Linked DNA regions of Homo sapiens. The protein of the gene in region 3 purifies or fractionates together with the protein of the main gene of each other region. This does not show direct contact. Each region holds a gene or a part of one and is shown on either strand. Other genes may lie near its edges.

Region 1 (3,791 bases), on a different chromosome or scaffold from region 3:
GAAAAATGCAGTTTTCTGTACACGTCCAGCATAATTCATTCTAATCCAGAACTAATTGAAATTGGACTCAATGAAATAGGGGTTGCCACCGTGAAAGTGCATGGCTTTATCTTCAGGCGCAGCTACAAGGCACTGGGCTCTGTGTCCGCAGTGTTTTGTCAGACAGCGTTGGGTGAGAGGATTGGGTAACGACGGCCGTGACTCTCGCCTGAGTACTGGAAGGCCCGTCCTGGATGACACATCGCTTCCTCTCGTTTCAGTTGTCGACAACAGTAGCAACTGGGCAGTGTGTGGGAAAAGCTGCGGTGTCATCTCCATGCCAGTGGCTGCTCGGGCCACTCACAGGGTCCACATGGAAGTGATGCCGCTCTTCGCCGGGTATCTCCCCCTGCCCGACGTCAGGCTGTTCAAGTACCTCCCCCATCATTCTGCACACTCCTCCCAACTGGACGCTGGTAAGGACTTTGGAAGAAAAAGTTTACCTTCAGTATTTGAGCAGGTGAGCACTTTGTGCGAGAGGTGATAAACTTATGACTGAGCAGGTTGGAGAACTAGCGGCGTGTTTTCAGTGCCGGTAGAAACTGGTACTAGAAGCCTCATCCGCTGTTAGAATCTTAGGCACCTGCTCTGAAAGCCAAGCCTCTGTGCACAGAGTGCTCTGTAAAGGGGCAGCCTCGGGTGGCATTCTGCACGTTCAGCCTGGCTCCGTGTGGCTTTGCCCGTCCCCAGGTGAGTGTCGGCGCAGCTTGGGTCTAACTTCCTGTGTGTTTTGCAGACAGCTGGATAGAAAACGACAGCCTGTCAGTAGACAAGCACGGGGACGACCAGCCGGACAGCAGCAGCCTCAAGAGCAGGGGCAGCGTGCATTCGGCCTGCAGCAGCGAGCACAAAGGCCTACCCATGCCCCGGCTGCAGGCACTGCCGGCCGGCCAGGTCTTCAACTCCAGCTCGGGCACACAAGTCCTGGTCATCCCCAGCCAAGATGACCACGTCCTGGAAGTCAGTGTAACATGACAACGCCAGGGTGAACACACGCCACTTCCCAGCTAGGAGTGCACTTTATGGGACTGTGACTGGACTCTTCCGTTCTGGCTCCAGCCAGACCTTCAGTGGTCCTGCCTGGCCGTGGGGACATCAGAGAGTGTCATCACGCAGCTGGCCAGCTGAGTTCTGTTGTTGTTTTCATGCCGCCTGTGATCTCAGATTCCTGCTTTTCTCACCCCGTCCCCATGCTGGTGTCCGACGCCGCTTACTCAGAGCCCTGGCCTCCCTCCCCCTACCTCACACGCTGCTCATGAAAGTTTCCACCCACGCTGTCTCCACGGAACAGCCTCCGTCTGCTGGCTCTTCGTGGAAGGCCATTTGTCTTTCAGGTAGACACTCAGCAGCCCTCACGGTCTTAGTGACGTGTGTGCCTTTCTGGTCACACAGCTGCCCAGTTTCCTGATCGGGGTGGATTTGTGTCCCCTAAGGGGTAAAACAGCCGTTTACCGCAGATCCTCTCATTGTGCTTTTCTAGAATAACACCCTTCTAGGGGAGGCGGGTGGGGGAGGGAGGGATCATAACCCCTTCTGTGCCTTGGGATGCCGGAGCTGGGGGACCTGGAGGCCCATCAGCCGGAGCCACGTGAAAGGTACTGAAGAAAGCTGAGACCCGGCTGTGAGGAGCGCCTCAGCGGTGAGGTGGTTTAGGGATAAATGTTTCTGGAACCCTGTGGTCCCCCATAATGTTGATAGAATATCATATGCACTGGGAGTTAAATATATTTAATTTAATGATCATTATATATGTGGGGGTTAATATGTTGTTTTTCTGTCCCTTTAAAGTCTTTACATGTAATTGTAGCTGTATAATCGTTATTTTTCTTTTGCATCTTAAGTCTTAGAAATTAAGATATTCCATCGTGAGGATGAGAGAGGTCCTCAGTGTGTTTTTGGTCTGGTTGTAGGGAAGGACTCAAGTCCTGGAATGTCCTCCACTGGTCTACTGAGTTGCAGTCACACTGTTCCAATGGATTATTTGCTTTCGGTTGTAAATTTAATTGTACATATGGTTGATTTATTATTTTTAAAAATACAGACTAACTGATGTAATGTTTATGTATAAGTTGCACCAAAAATCAAGGACAAAAATAAGTGTGTTTGTTTTTACAGGTGTGAAAGTCACAGCTTGTAAATAAGTGTTGTATGTATTAAACCTTTTCCAGTTCTCCAAAGCGATGTATTTTTGTACACTTGAAATAGAGTACTCTTAATTTACTGGGCAAATGTGCTTGGAATTGAACTTGACAAGATTAGCTCAAGCAGATAGAGTCGGGTCCAGCAGTGGGTGGCCCTCGTGTGAATCCCCGTGGATGTGCAAGTTGTGGAGAGAAGGAGCACCGGGTTCCTGCCCAGCACTGTGCTTGCGGGAGGCGGTGGGGCATGGGAGGAAGGAGGCACAGACCGGGGAAATATGACAGCCGTCATTTCCAGTATTCTCTGTGTTGTCTTTTAGCTCATTCAATAAATAAAGGTGGTGTGATTTTTTTTTCCTCCTGTCTTTTTCATTTGTAGAAACTGGAGACGTGTAAAGAAGATAAATAATTGTGTAATTAAACTTTCCAGAAATTTATCTTCCTCATGTGCAGTTTAACAAACTTGGTCAAACTAGTTAGCAAATTAGAACTTCAGAATCTAATGATAGTTTAGGGTTTCTAAAATAAGGTTTTTTATTGTAAAAATTGACGATTGCCCTGCATTTCTACCAAGTCCTGTGAATAAAGAGATGGGAGATTTGATTCCGTCAGAAGAGACTGTAATCCGTGTCGTCAGCCTGGGAGCCTTCCCCAGTGTAATGTAGCTTTCTCTCTTACCTTCTGGAAGAGGGAATGTTTCATTTATTACTGTTTGATTTTCTTGTATCTGGTTCTACTCCCAGGATGAAATTATCCAACTACATATATATTTAGAGGAAGAAAGTGAAGGGGAAATTTAAAATGTTTACGGCGCTTAATTGCCTGGAAATGAAATGAAATCAAATTTATCAGTTTTTTTCCCCCTAATTACCCAAAAGATCTTTTGCAAACTATGTTACATGAATGCTTCTGCCTCTTTAAGACAAAGAAGAATGTCACCCAAAATTGTCATTTTTTTCTTAATGTTCATCATAAAAGTCCTAAAAGAGTAACTGTAATTGGATGTTTATTGTTTTTATCTAAAGTAAGGTGTATGTGTTTGAGACAAGCTGGTTTTGTTGATAAAGAGATGTTAAATAATTGTGAAGCCAGATATGCAATGTGTATCTGAAAAGCAAGGAATTTGCAGCCGTTTTACAAATATCTGTGGAACATGTAAATACTGTCAAATGGAAAATAAAATAAGTTATAATTTTTGTGAATTTCATGGGATGTCCTATGATTGGAAAAATTATAACTCTTCTGATTCTAATGTGGAAATTGTTGTATTTAATCTGAAAATGACTTTACCTACAACAGTTCCATTGTCAGCACAGCCTAGGAAGGTCAGATCCTGTATTAATTACTCTTAGTGGAGATGCCAGATATCCCATACAGAATTAGCAGAGAAAATACACACAGGCTTCTATTCAAATTTTCTTTAGTGCTTAAAATTAAGTTTTAAAATGAAATCAGACACTGCAGGTTTGTATATAAAATGAAAAGCTATACTACTTTTTACAAAAGGGCAAACTGGGCTGATGTAAATGTTTTACTTTCAACTGTGTTCTTTAAAATAAATCCTACCTGGTTTTTAAATTTTATTTTTCATGAAAATGCTCCTTTCTCTACATT
Region 2 (3,791 bases), on a different chromosome or scaffold from region 3:
CAGGGACGGGGTGGAAGAGGACTGTAAAGAGGAGGCAGGGGTTGGCCGGGCGCAGTGGCGCACACCTGTAATCCCAGCACTTTGGGAGGCCGAGGCAGGCAGATCACCTGAGGTTGGGAGTTCGAGACCAGCCTGACCAACATGGAGAAACCCCGTCTCTACTAAAAAATACAAAATTAGCCAGGCGTGGTGGTGCATACCTGTAATCCCAGCTACTTGAGAGGCTGAAGCAGAAGAATTGCTTGAACCCAGGAGGCGGAGGTTGCAGTGAGCCAAGATTGTGCCATTACACTCCAGCCTGGGCAACAAGAGTGAAACTCCATGTCAAAAAAAAAAAGAAAAGAAAAGAAAAAAAGAAAAAGAAGAGGTGGGGGTACTTAACGCCTTCATCACAAATCTGGAAATGCCCAGACCTTCAGCTGCACCCACTATGTGCCAGACATGATCAAAGATGTTGGGGCAGAGAAGGGGGCAGAGAAGACGAATACTGATCTTAGCCAGTGCCTGTAAAGAGGTCACCATCTAAAATAAAGGTGACAGCCGGGGAAGGTCACATGCCTTGGCCACCAATGCGTTAGAACTCCCATTGATTCTTTCATGGAACCTATCTAAGATGAAAGGTTGTAAATAATACTATGATCAGTAATAATATTACTTCATTCCTCTTATCATTTCAGTGTAATAAGAAGTCAAATGATAAATACTACATTGCAAATGGAATTGACATCACTTTAAAGCCCTAAAACGGTTCCTTAATGGGAAAAGCTCGAGCGCAACTGCTTTTGGGCACTAGGCAGACAATTGACTGAGAAGCCATGAGCCCAGAGAGCCTCAGGACAAAGCCATGTTTGGTCGACACAGGCACCTATGGCACAAGGAGCCGGGGAGTACAAAATGGTCCCTGGCAAAGCTAGGCCAAGATCCTCAGGAAATCTTGAAATGAGATGAAATCCCCAAACTCATTTCCAACCTGCTGCTCTTTTAGGGCATATTAATCAGCACATCTTTGTTCTAATCTTTCAATAGGCTGCACAGTCACGAAGTCCAAGTTCAGGGCCCAGATGTTTATGTGAGGTTCCAACGAAAGTGGCTCCAAGACTACTCAAGACAAGGAGCTTTATTCACAAGGCAGACTCTGAGGGATCCAAATATTAACTCACCATTCCATTTCCAAGTAGAAAGTAAGTTTAGACCTGCTTTATTCTGTTAATAAGAAATAAAGTGACAAGATCAGAGGGAAACTCCAGACACAGGACTTGTCTCTGGCAGGATGGAGAGGGAGGAATACAGCCTGGAGCTGTAAAGTCCTGAGTTCCAGGGCCACATCTGCATATCCCTAAGAAACAGGGATCATCAAATCTAATTACGATTGTCAAAAAGACTCAATGAAATAATGCAAACACTGAGCATAAGCCTAAAACTCTCAGTGAGTGTTCAAGAAACAGAAATATCACTGTTAGTTAATGCCTTTGACACCACAAGTTCTAACCCCAAGTTAACCAGCCACTGATGCTCTAGAAAATGCCTTAACCCTCATCAGCCTTCTCAAACGTGGGCACTTGCAGTGATCAGAAGAACAAGTCAGTGACAGATGTGTAGGGGCAGCCTGGTGGCCGCACTCAACTAAATGATGACCGTGGGAGAATGCCGGATGGGAAACAGCAGGCCCCACACATTCCCAGGTTTGAAAACACACTCTGCTCCTCTCTCCGGCTATTTCCAGCCATAATTACATGGAGAGAAAATACATCTTCAAAATTATACAAACTTTCCATATATGTCTATCAAAAAAGTTTGTTAAAAACATAACCTACTTTCTCATATCCCGGAGTAGGGGTATGAGGCATGCACCAAGGATTTTCCTTTATAAAGCATCTGTCTAAAGTAATTGGATCCATTTTCAGTTTTAATCATTCAAAAGTAAGAATGAAAACAAAGCAAAACAAAACAAAAACTTCAATAAGACCTGGTCCCTCAAAACTTCATGAAGTAGTAGAGGAGATAGGTCCATAAAGAATCACAGTGTTGGAGGCCGGGCGCGGTGGCTCACGCCTGTAATCCTAGCACTTTGGGAGGATGAGGTGGGCAGATCACAAGGTCAGGAGATCAGGATCATCCTGGCCAACACAGTGAAACCCCGTCTCTACTAAAAATACAAAAAATTAGCCAGGCGTGGTGGCAGGCACCTGTAGTCCCAGCTACTTGGGAGGCTGAGGCAGGAGAATGGCGTGAACTTGGGAGACGGAACTTGCAGTGAGCCGGGATTGCGCCACTGCACTCTAGCCTGGGCACAGAGCAAGACTCCATCTAAAAAAAAAAAAAAAAAAAAAAAAAGAATCACAGTGTTGAGGCCAGGCAACGTGGCTCATGCCGATAATCTCAGCACTTTGGGAGGCTAAGGCAGGCAGATTACCTGAGGTCAGGAGTTCGAGACCAGCCTGGCCAACATAGTGAAACCCCATCTCAACTAAAAATATAAAAATTAGCCGGGCGTGATGGTGGGTGCCTATAGTCCCAGCTACTCAGGAGGCTGAGGCAGGAGAATCACTTGAACCTGGGAGGTGGAAGTTAGCAGTGAACCGAGATCGCGCCACTGCACTTCAGCACAACAAGAGCGAGGCTCCATCTCAAAAAAAAAAAAAAAAAAATCACAGTGTTGGGAAGAAGATGGATGGAGAGATGGCTGAAACAGGGATGCTGTGCCCTATGCCTTGGACAGATACCTGGAAGGTTCCTAGACTACCAGGTATACCCACCACATGCTAGAGGAAGGACACTTTGTAAACAGTCAGTGCCCTTGTTGAGTGCACCATCCAAAAGAGATGGCCAAGCAAAGTCCGCGCTTGACCCCTGATCACCTCAGTTCCAGCCTTTGATTCATTCTTGGATAACCTGAAAAACCCACTCCTTTGGCTTCAAGAAATACTGCCTATTTTACCATCTTTGGGTTTAGTGAGCAAGCGAGTTCATGTGTACTTTAAAGATGATTTGAACTCTGACTACAGCTTTTCTCCACATTCATCTTTCCATACCAGAGTTCTCAGTTTCTTTTTTTTTTCTTCTCTTTTTTTGAGACAGAATTTCACCCTTGTGGCCCAGGCTGGAGCGCAGTGGCGTAATCTCGGCTTACTGCAACCTCTGCCTCCCAGGTTCAAACAATTCTCCCGCCTCAGCCTCCTCAGGAGCTGTGATTACAGGTGCCCGACGCCACACCCGGCTACTTTTTGTATTTTTAGTAGAGACAGGGTTTCGTCATGTTGGCCAAGCTGGTCTCAAACTCCTGACCTCAGGTGATCCGCCTCAGCCTCCCAAAGTGCTGGGATTACAGGCATGAGCCACTGCACCCAGCCAAGTTCTGAGTTTCTTTAAGTCTGTTCTCCATAAAATCTAGTCCCTCCAATGACAACTCATGCAGCCTGAAATTAAAAGCCAATTAAACAAGACCATACACAGCTAAAACGTCCCCCACCCCCCATCACTCCTTTCCTAAACTCCTCTCCTGCCTGTCCGAAATAGACTAATGCCTTCCGCACTACACTACAAAACACTAATGATGTGTTGTCAGATTAGATGGACACGGTGGTGCACACCTGTAATCCCAGCTACTTGGGAAGCTGAGGCAGGTGAATCGCTTGAACCCGGGGGGCAGAGGTTGCAGTGAGCCACGATCACGCCACTGCACTCCAGCATGAGTGACAGAGCAAGACTGTCTCAAAAAAAAAAAATACTTTGGGATACTTAAATGAGACCTTGGGAGAGAGGCAAAGGCAGTGTATTTGGGGTCTAACATC
Region 3 (4,083 bases):
CACAAAGTCCCCACTGGGGCACTGCCTAGGAGCTGTGGGAAGAGAACCACCATCCTGCAGACCCAAGAATGATAGATTCACTGGCAGCTTGCACCCTGCACCTGCAAAAGCTATAGGCACTCAAAGCCATCCCATGAGAGCAACCTCAGGAGCCCCTGCAAAGCCACAGGGACAGAGCTGCCTAAGGCCTTGGGAGCCCATTCCTTGCACCAGTGTGCCCTAGATGTGGGACATGGAGTCAAAGGGTATTATTTTGGAGCTTTAAGATTTAGTGGCTGCCCTGCTGAGTTTTGAACTTTCATGGGTCCTGTAGCTCCTTTCTTTTGACCAATTTCCCCCTTTTGGAATGAGAATATTTACCTAATGCCTTTACCCGCTTTGTATCTTGGGAGTAACTAACTTGTTTTGATTTTGCAGGCTCATAGGTAAAAGGAGATGAGTATCAGATGAGACTTTGGACTTGAACTTGGGACTTTTAAGTTAATGCTAGAGGAAGTTAAGACTTTGGGGGACTATTGGGAAGAGATTATTGTATTTTGAAATTCAAGAAGGGCATGAGATTTGGGAGGGGCCGGGGCAGAATAATACAGTTTAGATTTGTGTCTCCACCCAAATTTCATATTGAAATGTAATCCCCAGTATTGAAAGTGGGACCTGGTGGGAGGTGACTGGATCATGAGGGTGGATTTCTCATGAATAGCTTAGCACTATCTTCTTGGTGCTATCCTCACTACAGTGAGTAACTTCTTGTGAGATCTGGTCATTTAAAACAGTGTGGCACCTTGCTCTCTCTTTCATTCCCACTCCTGTTATGTGAGAAGCCTGCTCCCTCTTTGCCTTCTGCCATGTAAGCTTCCTGAGGCCTCCCCAGAAGCAGATGGTGGTGACAGGAAGCACATGCTTCCTGTAGAGCCTGCAGAACTGTGGGCCAATTAAATCTCTTTTCTTATAAATTACACAGTTTCAGGTATTTATTTATAGCAAAGCAAGAATGGCCTCATACAGACATTAAAAGAAAAAAGAAAGAAAATATTGCGTCTATTAGTAGTGAATATAATGATACTTCTTTTCCAGGTAATCCAGGGCTCCCTTACCTTTTCTTCATAATTTGGTAGTTTATCTTTGCATATGGTTATGATGTCCATCCAGGAGTAGTTCCTCTCTCTTCGGATCTTTTCTAATTCTGGATCATTCTCATATTTGTCAGCATCCAGCTAAAAGAGTTAACCCACCAAAAACAAGAGCTCAGATTAACAAGGAGATGTAGAAACATTCTCTTTCTGGATCTCCAATATGATTTTATACTCCAAATTTATCATTTGTTATTTTTTCAACCCTCAACTAACTCTCTTCATCTCCTCTAGCCATTTAATGGATTTTCCATTCTCCAAAACACCAGCTATACATACAATGGAGTTCTGTTTGATTTCTGCCTCCCTTCTCTGCAACAGTCCATCCCAGGGGATTCTTTTTCCCATTTTGAGATGGTAGTCTCACCACCTCAGGCCTTTCTGTCCACTCCACAGGTCCCTCACTGTGCCCTGTTTCTCTGCCACCATCCCACTCATGAGTCTCATTGATCCTCAATGCCATCTCTTTGGTCAGTTTGTTTCCATGAGCCAAAACATTGTATGCTCTCACAGCTTGCAAATAAAACTCAAGTTAATTAAACTGGAATGAGAAACCTTCTATCATCTGGCCCCAGCTGACTTTTCTACTTCTATCTGTTCCCATCTCCTACTTTTTAAAGAACTCTACATTCTAAACCAAATAGGATGATCGGCTATCTTAAAAATATTTGATATTTCACATCCCCACAACCTTGCTCATGACAGCTTTCTATGCCTAAAATTCCCATTCAACATTTTCATTTATCACAATCCTATCTCTATTAAGGTTCAGTTTTACTGTTCCTTCCTGACGAAGCACTTCCCTGATGAAGCTCCAGGCAGAATTCATCTGAACTCTTATTTAAAACTACTGGCAGTGAATCTAGCACACTTTATGTTTTGCAATAAACTGCACATTATATCATCACTACTTACTGAACAACAAACTCCAGTGTTGCAGGAAGTCAGGGACCCCGAATGGAGGGACCGGCTGGAGCCATGGCAGAGGAACATAAGTTTTGAAGATTTCACGGACATCTATCAGTTCTCAAATAATACTTTTATAATTTATTATGCCTGTCTTTAATCTCTTAATCCTGTTATCTTCGTAAGCTGAGGATGTATGTCACCTCAGGACCACTGTGATAATTGTGTTAACTGTACAAATTGATTGTAAAACATGTGTGTTTGAACAATATGAAATCAGTACACCTTAAAAAATAAAATAACAGCGATTTTTAGGGAACAAGGGAAGACAACCATAAGGTTTGACTGCCTGCAGGGTCAGGCAAAAACACCCATATTTTTCTTCTTGCAGAGAGCCTATAAATGGGCGTGCAAGTAGAGAAGGTATCACTAAATTCTTTTCCTAGGAAGGAATATTAATATTAATACTCTGGGGAAGGAATGCATTTCTGGGGGGAGGTCTATAAACAGCTGCTCTGGGAATGTCTGTCTTATGCGGTTGAGATAAGGACTGAGATACGCCCTGGTCTTCTGCAGTACCCTCAGGCTTACTAAGGTGGGGAAAAACTCCACCCTGGTAAATTTGTGGTCAGACCAGTTCTCTGCTCTCGAACCCTGTTTTCTGTTATTTAAGATGTTTATCAAGACAATATGTGCAGCACTGAACATAGATCTTTATCAGTGGTTCTGCTTTTGCCCTTTGCCCTGTGATCTTTGTTGGACCCTTATCAGTGGTTCTGCTTTTGCCCTTTGTCCTGTTCCCTCAGAAGCATGTGATCTTTGTTAGACCCTTATTAGTAGTTCTGCTTTTTGCCCTTTGAAGCCTGTGATATTTGTACCTACTCCCTGTTCTTACACCCCCTCCCCTTTTGAAACCCTTAATAAAAACTTGCTGGTCTGAGACTCAGGCGGGCATCACGGTCCTACCGATATGTGATGTCACCCCTGGCGGCCCAGCTGTAAAATTCCTCTCTTTATACTGTCTCTCTTTATTTCTCAGCTGGCCGACACTTATGGAAAATGGAACCTATGTTGAAATATTGGGGGTGGGTTCCCCCGATACTCCAGAACATATTAAAGTACTAGTCATCAATACGTTATTTTCTACAAAGTTGACTCTAAAACTTAGCCTATCCACTGCATGATATGCACAGTACTATTTGCTATGGTCTGAATGTGTCCATATTATGACACATAATATGTAATATGACACATTATATGACACGTGTCATAAGTTTAAATATACGAATGTTGAAACTTAACACAAATGTGATAGTATTAAGGGGTGGGACCTTTAGGATGTGATTAAGTCATGAGGGCAAGCCCTCATTTATAGGATTAGTGGCCTTGTAAGAGAGATGGAGCTGGGCACTGTGGCTCACACCTATAATCCCAGAACTTTGGGAGGCCAAGGTGGGCAGATCACCTGAGGTCAGGGGTTCAAGACCAGCCTGTCCAACATGGTGAAACCCCATCTCTACTAAAAATACAAAAATTAGCCAGGCATGGTGGTCCACGCCTGTGATCCCAGCTACTCGGGAGGCTGAGGCAGGAGAATCACTTGAATCCAGGAGGCAGAGGTTGCAGTGAGCCAAGACTGCGCTACCAGCCTGGGTGACAGAGCGAGGCTCCATCTCAAAAAAAAAAAAAAAAAAAAAAAAGAGCAAGAGAGATGTAAGAGAGCAGTTTGCCCCTTCCACCACATGAGGACAGAGCAAGGAAATGGCCGTCTATGAGGACAGGATCCTCATCAGACACTAAATCTGCTGGCACCTTAATCTTGGACTTCTTAGCCTCTAGAACTATAAGAATTCTATAAATTGCTGTTGTTTATAAATTGCCCAGTTTAAGCTATTTTTGTCATTTTGTTATAGCAGCAGGTATTTAGTTTATTCCAAGCTAAAATAATCTTCCAATTGTTTGTATGTATGACAAAAGGTTTTTTAGAACTCTATGTCACTAATAACAGATTGATTAAACAGATACACAAACATGTCCACATGTGTTA
Region 4 (3,791 bases), on a different chromosome or scaffold from region 3:
AATAAATGAGCTTTCTCTATTCTTCAACCACAGTCTCTTACAGACTCAGGCCCTCACCCCCAATAATGTCAAAATCACAGGTCCTACCTTGTTCCCAGAAGCATCTTTTCCCTTCCCTTCTTCCTCCACATGAAAGCGGAGGTTCTCCAGCAGGATGACAGACCCAGCAGCTGGGTTGGCACAGGCTTTCTCCACTTCTGGGCCTACACAGTCCTTCAAGAACAGAACATCCCTGAGAAGAGGAAGAGATGAAGACACTTGAGCAGTATGAAAGTTAAAAACCAGTAACAACGTGCTTGACAACTTCCCCCGCCACAAAGTCTACCAGCACCAGAGCCTGGCACTTACTTGCCCAGCAGAGATTTGAGTTCTACAGCAACTGGCTCTAAGGAGTACTTGTCAGGCATGGGCACACCATCAGGCCGGCCTAGGTGGCTCATAAGGACTACCGACTTGGCTCCATTGTCCAAGCAGAATTTGATGCTTGGGACAGCAGCCTTAATCCTGCAACCAAAGAGAGACAACAAACAGAATGAAGTTACTCCTAGAAATTAGTGGGAACTAGCTTATTGATAACCTCATAAAGCATAAAGCTCCTTTTCTTCTCCAAGTTCCTTCAAATCTACTATCAGTAATTCAATGGTGGTCCTTAAGAAGTTAAATGCAATGCCAACCCTCCACCTAGGATTGTACAATCTCATTATGTATCTGCCCCTTTCACAGACAAGAGTTAACACAGCAGGCCTGAGGCTACTATCTACAGAAGGACCTGTCTGCAAGATTAGATCCTGGCTGGTATCTGGGAACTTGGCTTTCAAAGTTAACTGACAAGACCAACAAGGGCTATTCACTCTTCCTAGACCGTCTATACAAACATGGTGATTTATGCTGAACACCTGCCCCACTCTAGAAGTCTAGAATTTTTTTTTTCTTTTCCTTTTTTTGTTGAGACAGGGTCTCACTCTGTCACCCAACAGGCTGGAGTGGAGAGGCACAATCTCAGCTCACTGCAGCTTCAACCTCCCCAGGGGCTTAGGTCATCTTCCTACCTCAGCCTCCCAAGTAGCTGGAACTACAGGAATGCACCACCATGCCCAGCTAATTTTTGTATTTTTTGTAGGGGTTTTACCATGTTGTCCAGGCTGGTCTTGAACTCCTGGGCTCAAGTTATCTGCAGGCCTCAGCCTCCCAAACTGCTGGGAATACAGGCGTGAGCCACCACACCCAGCAGAAGTTTGTAATTTTGGTAGTTGCTAGGCAGAGGATCCCTATGTTACCAGTTCCCAACAAAAATCTTGGGATCTGAGTCTCTAGCATGCTTCTCCAGGCAGAAACACTGCAGACAATTACTGCATTTTTCACTGCTGAAGAAAGGAAAACACTTGATGTGTCCCCTCACAGGAAACTGGAAGCCCATGGATTTCTCTAGACTCCCCCATGTCTTTTCCTCTTCCTAATCTTGTCATGCATTCTTTCACTGTAATAAACTTTAGCCATGAGAACAACTCTGAGTCCTAGCAAATCATCATGAGATATGTGGGTGATCTTGGGGACCCCTGAAAACACTTCTTATATGACTATGGAAAATACATAAAATTCTCAAATCTTGAAACCATCAAAGGAAATTTGGGGAAAAATAAAAAACATGTAGTAACTTTTCTGCACCTATTAATAGATCCTAAGTCACTTTTTTATGTAGGAAAAAATAATTGCACTGTCTAGAGCTTGGTTTCCATAATGTATCACATTCATTACATTATAAATTAATCAAAAAATTAACTCCCTTTAAACATTTAAAAGTTTTGTTATAAACCTGCTACTAACTTGCCATTTTGCCAGTTTATAAGAAATTAAAATTGATCAAGAAAAGCATTTATTTATTCATCAAATATTTATTGAATGCTTCTTTTGTGCCAGGCATCATTCCAGGTTCTGAGAATGAAACAGAAAACTTTTTTAAAAACTCTCTGTTCTCATGGAAGTGAAATTCTAATGGAGAGAGACAATAAACATGTATGTGTGTGTGCGTACATGTAATATATCAGATGGTGAGATACAGAAAAAAAACAAACCATTGTTCCCCATTTTTGTTCCCCTACTTTTGAGGACAAAAATGACCGGGGAACAATGGTAGAGGAGATTTTTAGACAGGATGGCCAGGGAAAGTCTGATATGATGACATCTGAGCAAAGAATGGAATGATTAAAAAAGTTATACTTTTAAAATATCTTATGTTATTAATATTTAGCAGATATAAGAACTCCTTTATATCAAATTTAAAAATCTGTATCAGGTACAAAGTTTGTGCAATGGAACCAATTAGTTTTCAGGACTATCCCTTATCAGCAAGTTTTATTATTTCTAATGCTTCATTTTGTTAATCAACTCCATGGATTTCCGGAAATGAAAAGATTTCCAAACATGTTTCTTTACTCTTAAAATAACTTGATAGGCATATTTCCAATCGTTTCTGTGTGTTGCACAATAATGAAGATCAAGCGGGATCAGATCTGCCTTATACAAAGACCCTGCCACTATGGTACAGCAGGGATGTGCTTGGCAAAATGACAGGCTCTATTCTAGGACCAATACCTGAAAATGTTCTGGGCTAGACCTGCACTGTCCATTACGACAGTCATTTAGTCATGTGTGTCTGTTGAGTACCAGATATATAACTAGATCAAATTGAGATGTGCTGTAGTATAAAAACACATGCCAGATCTTGAAGACTTAGTACCAAAAAAGTTAAATGTCCCTTTAATTTAATTAACACAATTTGGCTCACATTGTATTTCTATTAGATACCACTGGTCTAGATCATTAGAAAGCACCTTGCCAACACAAACCCTTCATTTAAAATTTAAAATAGGCGGAGCACAGTGACTCATGCCTGTATTCCCAGCACTTTGGGAGGCCAAGGTGGGCGGGGTCCAGGAGCTCAAGGCCAGCTTGGGCAAAAGGGCAAAACGCTGTCTCTACAAAAAAAATATGAAAAAGTAGCCAGGTGTGGTGGCCCACGCCTGTGGTCTCAGCTCCCTGGGAGGCTGAGATGGGAGGATCGCTTGAGCCCAGGAGGCAGAGATTGCAGTGAGCCAAGATCGTGCCACTGCACTCCAGCCTGGGCGACAGAACGAGGCCCTGTCTCAAAAAAAAAAAAAAATTAAATAAAAACCTTCTTGATGGATACCCCATTTAACCTGATGTGATTATGTATTGCATGCTTTTATCAAAATATCTCATGTAACCCATATATATATATATATAAAATCTACAAAAATTAAAAATTAAAAAAATTAAAAAGAAAGTAAAGACAAAAATAAAGACCTTTTATAATCTAGTCAAAAGCAAGAGCAGTACTCTCACTTAAAATTTGTTTCTGAATCTAGGATCCAAGACACTGGAGCAGCTAAACTGACTGAAAACGTACTTCTGAAGTCTTTCCTGTTTGTTTTTTTGGAAGCAAAAACAAATGAAAATTCTCAAAAATTGACTTATCTGAGCCATTTGAATGGGGGCTTGTAAAACTACATATAACCTTAGTAACTACTGGTACTTTTAAAATCCTTCTCTTACATAGTTCTTCATTTTGCAAGAGAAGCCAAGTAACCTTAAATTTTTATATTTTTTGTGTGTGTTTTATAGAGATGGTGTCTTACTATATTGGCCAGGCTGTTCTCGAACTACTGGCCTCAAGCAATCCTCCTGCCTCGGCCTTCCAAAGTGCTGGGATTACAGATGTGAGCCACCGCACCCAGCCAACTTTTATATTCTTTAAAAATGAATAACTCTGC

The links.
Region 1: the proteins of ADI1 (region 3) and TRAPPC10 purify together in Homo sapiens (affinity purification with mass spectrometry; one large-scale study listed by BioGRID and IntAct). This does not show direct contact.
Region 2: the proteins of ADI1 (region 3) and TRAPPC9 purify together in Homo sapiens (affinity purification with mass spectrometry; one large-scale study listed by BioGRID and IntAct). This does not show direct contact.
Region 4: the proteins of ADI1 (region 3) and PGK1 fractionate together in Homo sapiens (co-fractionation; one large-scale study listed by BioGRID). This does not show direct contact.

What each region holds. Positions count from the first base shown.
Region 1 is NC_000021.9:44,102,518-44,106,308, forward strand, and holds part of TRAPPC10 (trafficking protein particle complex subunit 10), read left to right. Parts: intron 1-260; coding exon 261-455; intron 456-775; coding exon 776-1,014; 3' UTR 1,015-3,791. UniProt on the Homo sapiens protein: Specific subunit of the TRAPP (transport protein particle) II complex, a highly conserved vesicle tethering complex that functions in late Golgi trafficking as a membrane tether.
Region 2 is NC_000008.11:140,374,245-140,378,035, forward strand, and holds part of TRAPPC9 (trafficking protein particle complex subunit 9), read right to left. Parts: intron 1-3,791. UniProt on the Homo sapiens protein: Functions as an activator of NF-kappa-B through increased phosphorylation of the IKK complex. May function in neuronal cells differentiation. May play a role in vesicular transport from endoplasmic reticulum to Golgi.
Region 3 is NC_000002.12:3,512,763-3,516,845, forward strand, and holds part of ADI1 (acireductone dioxygenase), read right to left. Parts: exon of another isoform or gene 2,148-4,083; coding exon of another isoform or gene 2,046-2,147; intron 1,215-2,045; coding exon 1,095-1,214; intron 1-1,094. UniProt on the Homo sapiens protein: Catalyzes 2 different reactions between oxygen and the acireductone 1,2-dihydroxy-3-keto-5-methylthiopentene (DHK-MTPene) depending upon the metal bound in the active site.
Region 4 is NC_000023.11:78,110,457-78,114,247, reverse strand, and holds part of PGK1 (phosphoglycerate kinase 1), read right to left. Parts: intron 505-3,791; coding exon 349-504; intron 233-348; coding exon 88-232; intron 1-87. UniProt on the Homo sapiens protein: Catalyzes one of the two ATP producing reactions in the glycolytic pathway via the reversible conversion of 1,3-diphosphoglycerate to 3-phosphoglycerate.